Homo sapiens: one gene and its partners. The protein of the gene in region 2 purifies or fractionates together with the protein of the main gene of each other region. This does not show direct contact. Each region holds a gene or a part of one and is shown on either strand. Other genes may lie near its edges. The genes, in order: SLC25A25, GPRASP3 and KLK15.

The links.
Region 1: the proteins of GPRASP3 (region 2) and SLC25A25 purify together in Homo sapiens (co-immunoprecipitation; one large-scale study listed by IntAct). This does not show direct contact.
Region 3: the proteins of GPRASP3 (region 2) and KLK15 purify together in Homo sapiens (co-immunoprecipitation; one large-scale study listed by IntAct). This does not show direct contact.

What each region holds. Positions count from the first base shown.
Region 1 is NC_000009.12:128,099,232-128,102,731, forward strand, and holds part of SLC25A25 (mitochondrial adenyl nucleotide antiporter SLC25A25), read left to right. Parts: intron 1-1,864; coding exon 1,865-1,991; intron 1,992-2,077; coding exon 2,078-2,165; intron 2,166-2,848; coding exon 2,849-2,884; intron 2,885-3,138; coding exon 3,139-3,250; intron 3,251-3,500. UniProt on the Homo sapiens protein: Electroneutral antiporter that most probably mediates the transport of adenyl nucleotides through the inner mitochondrial membrane.
Region 2 is NC_000023.11:102,727,169-102,730,897, forward strand, and holds part of GPRASP3 (G protein-coupled receptor associated sorting protein 3), read left to right. Parts: intron 1-3,729. UniProt on the Homo sapiens protein: Survival and differentiation promoting protein that plays a role in the regulation of neurosynaptogenesis. Induces phosphatase PP2A activity which results in APP dephosphorylation and inhibits BACE1-mediated processing of APP.
Region 3 is NC_000019.10:50,827,579-50,830,700, reverse strand, and holds part of KLK15 (kallikrein-15 isoform 4 preproprotein), read left to right. Parts: intron 1-136; exon of another isoform or gene 137-171; intron 172-2,885; coding exon 2,886-3,039; intron 3,040-3,122. UniProt on the Homo sapiens protein: Protease whose physiological substrate is not yet known.

The DNA of each region.
Region 1 (3,500 bases), on a different chromosome or scaffold from region 2:
CCACCTCGGCTTCTCGGTTAATCAGTTTCCCTGCTACCCCCAGTGCCCACTGTGCACCAAGGGGGATTTGCAGATCCAAGGAAGGAGACAGAAGGAGGCCCAGGCCCTGTGAGGCAGAAGCAAGCACTTTGAGAATGCGTTGAAGCCAGCTGCGGTGAGCACACCCTCTGCTCTGGGTGTCTGCGACAGCACCCACCCCAGGGAGGCATGTGGCTCACCCTGGCAGCAGGCGGCTGGGTCCCAGAGGGCTCCATGCCTGATGTTCGCCTCCTGCCTAAATGGCTTGTCCACTCTATTTCCATTCCTGTTAGAGATTTGGAGCAGTCACCCTATAGGTGATTTATGTCACTCTTGTCTGAGAGCACAGATGTCCACAGGAAGTTAAATGTAACCTCAGCAGATAAAATATGTACCTGCATCTGTCCTACATTCCAGCCACGCCCCTCACATTAGCCTTTTGATCGCGCCAGGTCATGGGGTATCTGTTCAGGCCTCCCTGCCCCTGACACCTTTGGCAGCTGAGGAATCACAAGGCGCTGTCAGTAGTGTGTCTAAGAGAGAGGCGCGGTGGTGATCCTTTGAGGACGCGAGCTAGCCAGTGGGCCATCCATTTCCAAACCCCAGCTGGCTGTCAGTTGATTTCTCCCAGTGAGAAATCCGGAGGACACAGGAAGACTATACCATCTTCCTTGGGAGATTCTCGGTCCCAGTTTTGGGTTCCGGATTCAGGGCGTTGCTGAGTTGGGGTGACTCACTTTCATCCCCCATGTTCTGAAGGTTAGCCTTGAGGGTGGCGGCAGGATGTGCAGGGAGGCGGCTTGGGAGGACCACGGCCCAACTTGCATCCCGCCCACCACTTCCCTAGCTGTCTGACCTTGTGTAAATGTTTAGGCTCTCGGAACTCCTGTTTCCTTCTCTGTAAAATGGGGGAAATGACATTTCCTACCTCCTAGAGCTGTTTGCGAGGGGGGTAAGTGGGTTGCTAGAAGTAAAGCATTTGGCACGCCCTGCGGCCGGTGCTAGGTGCTGGGGAAATGTGTGCTCTCGTGGAGCTGTCCCAGTTGCCAACCATTAACAGCTGCTGAACAAAGCCCACCTCCTGGGAGGCGGGGGCGGGGGGGGTTACTTTTGGAACCTCATTGCCAAGGAACAGTCTCTCAAAGCCTTCTTGGGACACTAAAGTGCTTTTCAGTGAGTGAGCGGGAGAGCCAGGGCAGCTCTATCACCTGGCTTCCCTGAGAGCAGGGACTGGCAGTACCATCATACACATGCCCTTGGCTCCTTACACTTCCCCGGCCTCGGGTGCTGTGGCAGAGTCTGGCTCTGCCCCCGATTTTCACCTGCCCACCAAATTATTCTCGGACCAATGCCAGTTTTAGGAGAGAAACAGCGAGCTGCAGAGTTCCTGTCAGAAACTGGACTCCATGGCCATCCCCAAGTCTCAGCAGGGAGCATGTGTGGTTGAAGCCTGGGTCCAGGGACCCAGGGACGGCGCTGCAGCGAAGCCACCCTGCTCACCCTGGCTGTACGGCACGCAGGTCTTCAGACTGAGAAAGTGCCCAGCTGTCCCTGTCGGCCTCTGTCCGGAGGGCTCTTCCCAGGCTCCTTGTTTCCTCTCTGCTTGAGAGGGAGACAAGATTGGCCCTTGCCTGGGTTCTGGCCAGCACCTGGGGTTCTAGGTGGTGGCTCTGGCATGTAAGTCGATTGCCATGGTGGCTCTGAGAGTGGAGCAGAAGCATCTTGGGTCCTTGGGGCCAGCTCTGCTCGCAATTAGTGAAGTCATTGCCTGGGGATGGGGCCCCACAAGGGACAAGGAAAGGCTGGTCCAGGAGCCAAAAGACAAAATGTTACCTTTCTTTTCTAGAAAATTGTACAAGCTGGAGATAAGGACCTTGATGGGCAGCTAGACTTTGAAGAATTTGTCCATTATCTCCAAGATCATGAGAAGAAGCTGAGGCTGGTGTTTAAGAGTTTGGACAAAAAGAATGATGGTAAGTGTTGCCTTCAGAGCTGTGGCCGGTCCAGCCTCGGGCCTCCCCGTGCGCCTGGCTCCTGCTCACGGCCTCTGTTCTTGCAGGACGCATTGACGCGCAGGAGATCATGCAGTCCCTGCGGGACTTGGGAGTCAAGATATCTGAACAGCAGGCAGAAAAAATTCTCAAGAGGTGAGTGCTCAGCCAGCCTCTGTGTTTGGTTTAAGTGTGATGAAGGGAAGGCTCTGAGACTAACCCTCCGATGCCATTCCCTGGGCTGACCCTGAACTTGGCCTTCTCGTGGTTTGAAAGGATGAATAAGTAACCCCTGTGGGAGGCCAGCCCCTCCCCAGGGTTGCAGGCCTGCTTTCATTGGAAGAATCACAGATCACCTGGAATTTTGCCCATCGGCCAGTGGCCCATGAAGGGAAAACTAATTTGGGGGTGGTTCAAATAGGTAAAAGGCCAGCAAGGAGCACCTGTGCGTGTGGAGGGGGCGGGGCGGGGCGGGGGGCTCACACTGCAGCCTCGTTCCCAGGTGAATTTCTTCCCCATGCTGGTAACTTGCACTTAACACTTTAGTCAGAGGCGCTGCCCCAAAAGATAGCTCCCTGGTGCGGGGCGGCTGCCAGGAAATCTCATGGAACAGCCCTGGGAGTTGCCGTCTGTCCTGGCTGGACCTTCCGGAAACCCTGCGGTCTGAACACTGGCTGGTCCTCGGGGACAGCAGCCCTGGGCTCAGCTGCTGTGGCGGGCTCGTCTCGTGCCGTGCTGTGCCCCTGTCTCTGGGTGTGTGCTTGCTTCACTAACATGGCTCCGAGCACTTATGCGTGTTGTTTCTGCTCTCTCCTCCGCATCCTTTGTCTGTCTGTCAGAATACGAACGGGCCATTTCTGGGGCCCTGTCACCTAGTAAGTATCCATGTCGCTCATGACTGCCTCCCTTGACTTCCATGCCTGATCAGAGCGGGATTCTTGTGGGCCATTATATTGCCATTGTTGTGCTAAGTGGGGTGTGGAGCCCCCTGCTCTTTCTCCTGGGGGCAGAGGCACCTCGTGTGGTTTCTGGGCATCCGAATGCCTGCCCTTGGCTCACTGGGAGGTGGGGGGATGCAGCTGGCGGATGGGCATGTGGGCACGTGGGCAGCCTCGCCTCTGTCTTGCAGCATGGATAAAAACGGCACGATGACCATTGACTGGAACGAGTGGAGAGACTACCACCTCCTCCACCCCGTGGAAAACATCCCCGAGATCATCCTCTACTGGAAGCATTCCACGGTGAGCCCCACGTGCCCAGGGCCCTCATCTGCTCCCAGGGACCCTTAGCCCAGAGTCACCCAGTCGTCCCCATCCCAGAGTGCAGCTGGGGCTTTCCAGCCACCTCCTCTTCCACAGGAGACTGTCCCCTCTTCTGCCAGCCCAGTAGAGCTGTCCGCATGTTCCCCATGTTCTGGCACTCCAGCCAACCTGAACAGCCCCATCGTTCACACACACAGGCTTCCTCTTCCAGGAACACCCTCCGTCCCCA
Region 2 (3,729 bases):
ACTGACGTAGGGCAGCCTTGATGGTTGTTTAATTCAGCGAAGGACTCAGCTTTTTTCCGTCTCTTTCTTCTGCCATTCACAATATCAACTTCCGTCCTAAGGCTGATAGCTTGATGGCTACAACAATTCCAGGAGGTAAGCAACTTCCTGAGGAAGAAGAAAAGACAATCTTTTCTGATGACTTTGTCTTATGAATGAGGACACTTTCCTCAGAAGTCCATCTGTAACCTTCCCCTAATGTCACATTGAGTGGAATTTGATCAATGCCTCTTCCTAAACAAGAGAGTACCAAGGGGATAGATTATCCGTAGACCAAAGAGACTCACTCTTGGAAATGGAATTAGCCTCTCTGTGACATGTGACTAAAAGGAGGAGAAAGTCAGTAACCTGCAGTGGCAACTATGCAAAAATGGCATCCTTTTAGTAAAGGGTTATGGTAAGCAACACAGAATATACAAAGCACTGAGGCTACAGCACAAAGAGCACAGTGACACTGACTTAGCAATTATGACCTTTAAAAACCATGTAGTTCTCATCTATTCTTTCTTGCTTTCTCCAGCCCACTCCATAATAGGAATAGATCAGAAATTTTAAAAGAACTAGAAAGATCTGATATACACATGTTGTGCAGGATATCAAATAGTTTTCTCAGTATACACAATAATCCTGTAAAGTAGTTAATGCCAGCTCCCTTTTAAGGATGAAGAAACTGGGTTATAAAGACGTTAAGTACCTTTGCTAAAGTTACACAAATAGTGACAAAGTCTGTATTCAGACTTTGGACTGTCTGGCTCTGAAATCTGGGTACTCCCAACTCTTCTGTACAAACTCCCTTTAGAATGTACTCCCAGGGCTCAGAAACTAGTTACTCTAGTCTAAGCAAGCACTTAACAATCATTAGGCAGTTAATGTAAACTATAGATTCTAATAGTATCATGCACTGCCTCTTGATGGTGGTGGTGGTGGTAGTGACATAGACAACTTTTCTCTCCTAGCATTAAGTTACAGTTCCTCAGACTTCATTACCAATAATATATATATTTTTCAATTTTTAAAGATTTTTTGTAGAAACAAGGTATAACTGCATTGCCCAGGCCAGTCTTGAATTCCTGCACTCAAGTGACCCTCCCACCTTGGCCTCCCAAAGTGCTGGAATCACAGGCATGAGCCATTGTGCATGGCCATTACCAGGAATTTTGATTCAGGAGGTCAAAAGTCTAATTTGCATTGCACATTACAAATTTTTGGGCTGAGATGTCAGGTTCAGGGAGCCCCATAAATTTCCTGTACCTGGGAGTGAAAAGAGCTAATATTTATGGAGCAGCTGGGTTTTCCAGGGCAACCTAATTCCCAGATGTGATGTTCAGCAGAAAAGAAGCAGACAAAAGCAATGTGCACTGCTTTTTTTTTTTTTTTTTTTTTTTTTTAAATAGAGAGGGGGTCTTGCTATGTTGCCTAGGCTGCTCTTGAGCTCCTGGACTTAAGCGATCCTCCCACCTTGGACTCCCAAAGTGCTGAGATTAAAGGTGTGAGCCACCACACCCAGCCCATTTTAAATTTTTTATTTTTTATTTTTCACTGCTCTTTAGCTTCCCTGTTAAAACCCATAGCCAGACTTCCAGTTTCAGTTCCAACATGTAAGAACTTGTAAGTCATTGCTCCTGTACTTACAACCAGAAAAAAATCTGAACAAACAGAATCAACAACATTTCTTAGATTCTTCAAAGAACTGAGGCATAGGACAGTTGACTACCCCAAATTCTGAAGGCAAATCCAGAGAGTCACAGCCTATTTCTTCTTTCATAGAACAGAAACTGCTAGAGACATAAATAGGTAAGAGCACTTAAATGTAATTTTGATGAATTGCTGGAGACTGAGTGTGGAATAATATGAGAGTGAGAAACCCCTGAGGATCTGCAGTCAGGGAGGTCCCCACACTTTTGTGGGCATTACTTCCAAGAAACCCACCATATTCTTGCAGTGAAGGGCCTCATGGCCCCTGCAGTGGGAAGGGAACTGTACTTTTGTGAAATACACCCAGAGCCTTCTTCATTTTTTAAAAAAAAAGCCTATTCTGTGGTGGAAAAGACTTTATCAGAGCCTTATCTCAGCTGAGGGAAAGGCGTTTCTCCTATTTCAGCCCCCTTTAGGTTTCTAGTCTCATGTAAGGGAGAGAAAGGCGCTAAAATAAAACTCTTATGAAAATCAAAGCCCAGGGACACAGGCCCACAAAAGACTGAAATTTAATCATAATATTATAGAACACTTCCTCTCCTCTGCACTTCACCACCATGCTAACAAGGCTTTATTATAATAATAGTGGATAACAGTGAATAACAGTTAAAAGAGCTGCAAAATGTAAACTCTCCCTGAGAAGAATATTTAGGGAAATGCTAGAAATCAAAAATACTGTAACAGAGCCCAGGCACAGTGGCTCACGCCTGTAATCCCAACACTTTGGGAGGCTGAGGTGGGTAGATCACCTGAGGTCAGGAGTTCAAGATCAGCCTGGCCAACATGGAGAAACCCCATCTCTACTAAAAGTACAAAAATTAGCTGGGCGTGGTGGCGGGTGCCTGTAATCCCAGCTACTCAGGAGGCTGAGGCAGGAGAATCGCTTGAACCCGGGAGGTGGAGGTTGCAGTGAGCCGAAATTGTGCCACTGCACTCCAGCAAATGAAGAATGCCTTTGATGGGATTATCAGTAGACTGGACACAGTTGAGGAAAGACTCAGCAAGCTTGAGTAGCAGTCCCCAATCTTTTTTGGCACCAGGGGCAGATTTCGTGGAAGACAATTTTTCCATAGACTGGGGGGCGAATGGCATGGTTTCAGGACAATTGAAGTGCATTACATGTATTATGTACTTTATTTCTATTATTATTACATTGTAATAGATAATGAAATAATTATACAATTCACCATAATGTAGAATCACTGGGAGCCCGGAGATTGTTTTTGTAAAGCTAGATGGTCCCATCTTGGGGTGATGGGAGGCAGTGACAGATCATCAGGCATTAGATTCTCATAAGGAGCATGCAACCTAGATCCTTCACATGTGCAGTTCACAATACGGTTTGTGCTCTTATGAGAATCTAATGCCACTGCTGATCTTCCAGAAGGCGGAGCTCAGGCGGCAATGAAAGTGATGGGGAGTGGCTGTATATACAGATGAAGATTTACTGGCTAGCCCGCCACTCACCTCCTGCTGTGTGACCCAGTTCCTAACAGGCCATGGACGGGTCCAGGTCCGTGGCCTAGGGGCTGGGGACTCCTGAGCTTGAAGATAGGTCAATAGTGTAAACTAAAAAGTATGTAAGACATGTCTCAATTGATTTAGAAGTTTATTTTGCCAAGGTGAAGACATTCCCAGAAGAAAAGAGCATGGAATCACAGAAACAGTCTGTGGTCTGTGCCTTTATCCAAAGATAATTTTGAGGGCTTCAATATTTAAATGGAAACAGCAGGCTAGAGGGGAAGAGGGAGGGTACAGTAATCCACATGATGCAAGGGAAAAGGAGCAGAAACAGGAATAGTCAATTCTGTATTCCTCTGGCTCACAGTAAATCAGCACTTTACATAAGGTAAGGAAAATGTGTAATATCTACCTGTGGAGATATTTAACCTTTTATCTGTAGCTATCTGCTTAGGAACAAAAAAAAAAAGAAAGGTATTTTATTGCATGACTCAGCTTTCAGCTTAATATTTTCCTTTTGGCATAGTGAATCAG
Region 3 (3,122 bases), on a different chromosome or scaffold from region 2:
CTGATGCCTCTCTTCTGGAGAAATTGGGGGGTGGACTTTCATTAACGTTCTGCCACAAATGACCCTCACTCCTGGGGGCCCCTGAGACCCCCACGCCTCCAGCCTCCCCTCCGGCTCTCTCTGTGCACTCACCTACCTGCCTCGCGCCTGCCTGCTGCGCCCAGCTGGGGCCTCCACCTTCCTCTGGCTTGGACTGGCCAGGTGCAGCCTCGGTGCCCAGCTGTTCAGCCCGTACCCTCCGCCCTTCGGAGGACGACCTCACCCTTCCTTTGTTAAGCCCCTTGTCCACCACATCCGCATTCCCCTGGTCTCACGGGGGCCTTTGGCCCAGTTCCTGACTGTGATGGGGAGAGTGTGGGCATTTGGTCTGGCTGTGCAAATCCTGCCCCTGTGTGGGTGGGAGTGTGCATGGCTTCAACCTTCAGGGGATGCATCCACATTGCCCAGTGGAGAGGGGTCCTGGTCCTGTGACCTTGAATGTCTCTAATCATGTCCTTAAGCATAATGCCATTCTGTGTGTGTGTGTGTGTGTGTGTGTGTACATGCACGTGTGCAGTGGGTATACAAGGCCCTGTATGTTCACATCCTCTCCACATGCATGAGCCAGATCCCCATATGTGAAACCCAATCAGTGACTCCACAGATCTGGCTTGGGGGCTGATCTAGAGATGGATAAATATGTCCTGCCCTGGCTGCCTCTGGCTTCAGCTGCATGTCTTTGACCTTGAATGCCCAGCCCCGTGTCTGGGTGCTGCCCCAGACAGCAAGTCCACATCTGAGTGTTGGCCTTCTGGGTTGGTGTCTGCAGCTCTAACTCTACAAAATGTCTTGTGGGTGAATCACGGTTTTAACCTTGACTTTTTTTTGTTTGTTTGGTTTTTTTTGAGACGGAGTCTCGCTCTGCCGCCCAAGCTGGAGTTCAGTGGTGCAACCTCAGCTCACTGCAACCTCCGCCTCCCAGGTTCAAGCAATTCTGTCTCTGCCTCCCGAGTAGCTAGAATTACAGGCACGCACCACCACGCCCAGCTGATTTTTGTATTTTTATTTATTTATTTATTTATTTTTTAGTAGAGACGGGATTTCACGATGTTGGCCAGGCTGGTCTCAAACTCCTGACCTCAGGTGATCCACCCACCTCGGCCTTGGCCTCCCAAAGTGCTGGGATTACAGGCGTGAGCCACCACACCTGGCCAACCTTGACTATTTATTATAGGTAATTCTGTGCAGATGTCTGACTTATGTTGGCCATCTCCAGGATGGACCTGAACTTTCACACGTATGTCCCTGTGACTAAATCCAGGTGTCATTTGCAAAAAACAACTAATATTATTAAGTAGCTACCAGGGCTAGGTATCACTCACCATACATACACACATGCACACACACACATACACATTCCTACCTCATCCTTACAACAATCTTCATTTTACAGATGAGGAAACAGAGGCACAGACAGGTCGAATAACTTACTCAAAGTTTCACAGCTAGTACATTCGAACCCAGGCTTAAGGACCCATCTTTGTCCAGACCCTGTATGCAAGTGTCTGTGACACTGGATGCCAAGACTCACACTAGAGATGTTGAATTTAGGTCTGAACAATATCCAATTCTGTGTGTGTGTTTGTGTGTGCATGTGTGTGTGTGTATGTATTCATGTCTTAACCATCCATATTCATATACACATATGAACATCTGTGCTGTGATTCTTTTTTTTTTTTTTTTTTTTTTTTTGAGATGGAGTTTCACTCTTGTCACCCAGGCTGGAGTGCAATGGAGCAACCTCCGCTCACTGCAATCTCCGCCTCCCGGGTTCAAGCGATTTTCCTGCCTCAGCCTCCAGAGTAGCTGGGATTACAGGCACCCGCCACCATGCCCAGCTAATTTTTTGTATTTTTGTTAGAGACAGGGTTTCCCCATATTGGCCAGGCTGGTCTCGAACTCCTGACCTCAGGTGATCCACCCGCCTCGGCCTCCCAAAGTGCTGGGATTACAGGCATGAGCCACCGTGCCCAGCCTGTGCTGTGATTCTTGAAGCTGCAACCCATGTGCATGCAAGTGAATTTCAGCTTCCAGTCCTGTCCATAGCTGTACCTAAGTGTGGAAGCTGGATGTGCATGTATGCATGTCCATGACCTTGTATAGCCACATCTGGGACTCATACTGCACACTGAATTTGGCTGACATGTCCAGACTCTGGGGCCAAGGCTGGGTCACACATACTGAGTGGCCACATGCGTTTGACGTCTGTGACAATTTGGTGACCGTGAATGACTGGTTTCAAGTGACCACCTGTCTGAACCTGTATCCAGTGCCCCTGTCTCCACCCCCAACCACAGAGGACTTCTTGCCCTCTGGTCTGTTCCCCTTCCTCTCTCTCCCAGAGTCTTATAGCAAATGGGGTGGGGGCTAGAGTTCTGGAGAAAACAGGCAGCGGTTGTAAATAAACAACAGGGCAGGCGGAGCATGGTGGCTCACACCTGTAATCCCAGCACTTTGGGAGGCTGAGGCGGGCAGAGCATTTGAAGTCAGAAGTTTGAGACTACCCTGGCTAACATGGTGAGACCTCGTCTCTACTAAAAATACAAAAATTAGCCAGGTGTGGTGGCGGGCACCTCAGCTACTCGGGAGGCTGAGGCAGGAGGATCACTTGAACCCAGGAGGCGGAAGTTGCAGTGAGCTGAGATCATGCCACTGCACTCCAGCCTGGGCAAAAGAGTGAGACTCCGTCTCAAAAACAACAACAACAACAAACAAAAACAGGGCAGGGTGTCTTGAGAAGTTAGGGGAAAGGCATAGGCATATAGTAGTTAGGGCAGGGTGCAAGGAAGGTGTAGGAGGCAATGTAAACGTCCCTGTCCTCAGGCATCCTCTACCCCTTCTCTTAGCAGCCCAGGATGGTGACAAGTTGCTGGAAGGTGACGAGTGTGCACCCCACTCCCAGCCATGGCAAGTGGCTCTCTACGAGCGTGGACGCTTTAACTGTGGCGCTTCCCTCATCTCCCCACACTGGGTGCTGTCTGCGGCCCACTGCCAAAGCCGGTATGAAGGCAGGGGCTCAGGGTCCTGAGGGAGCCTGGTTCGGGGGGAAGAGCTCCTAGATTTGGGGGAAGACGGAGGCAGAC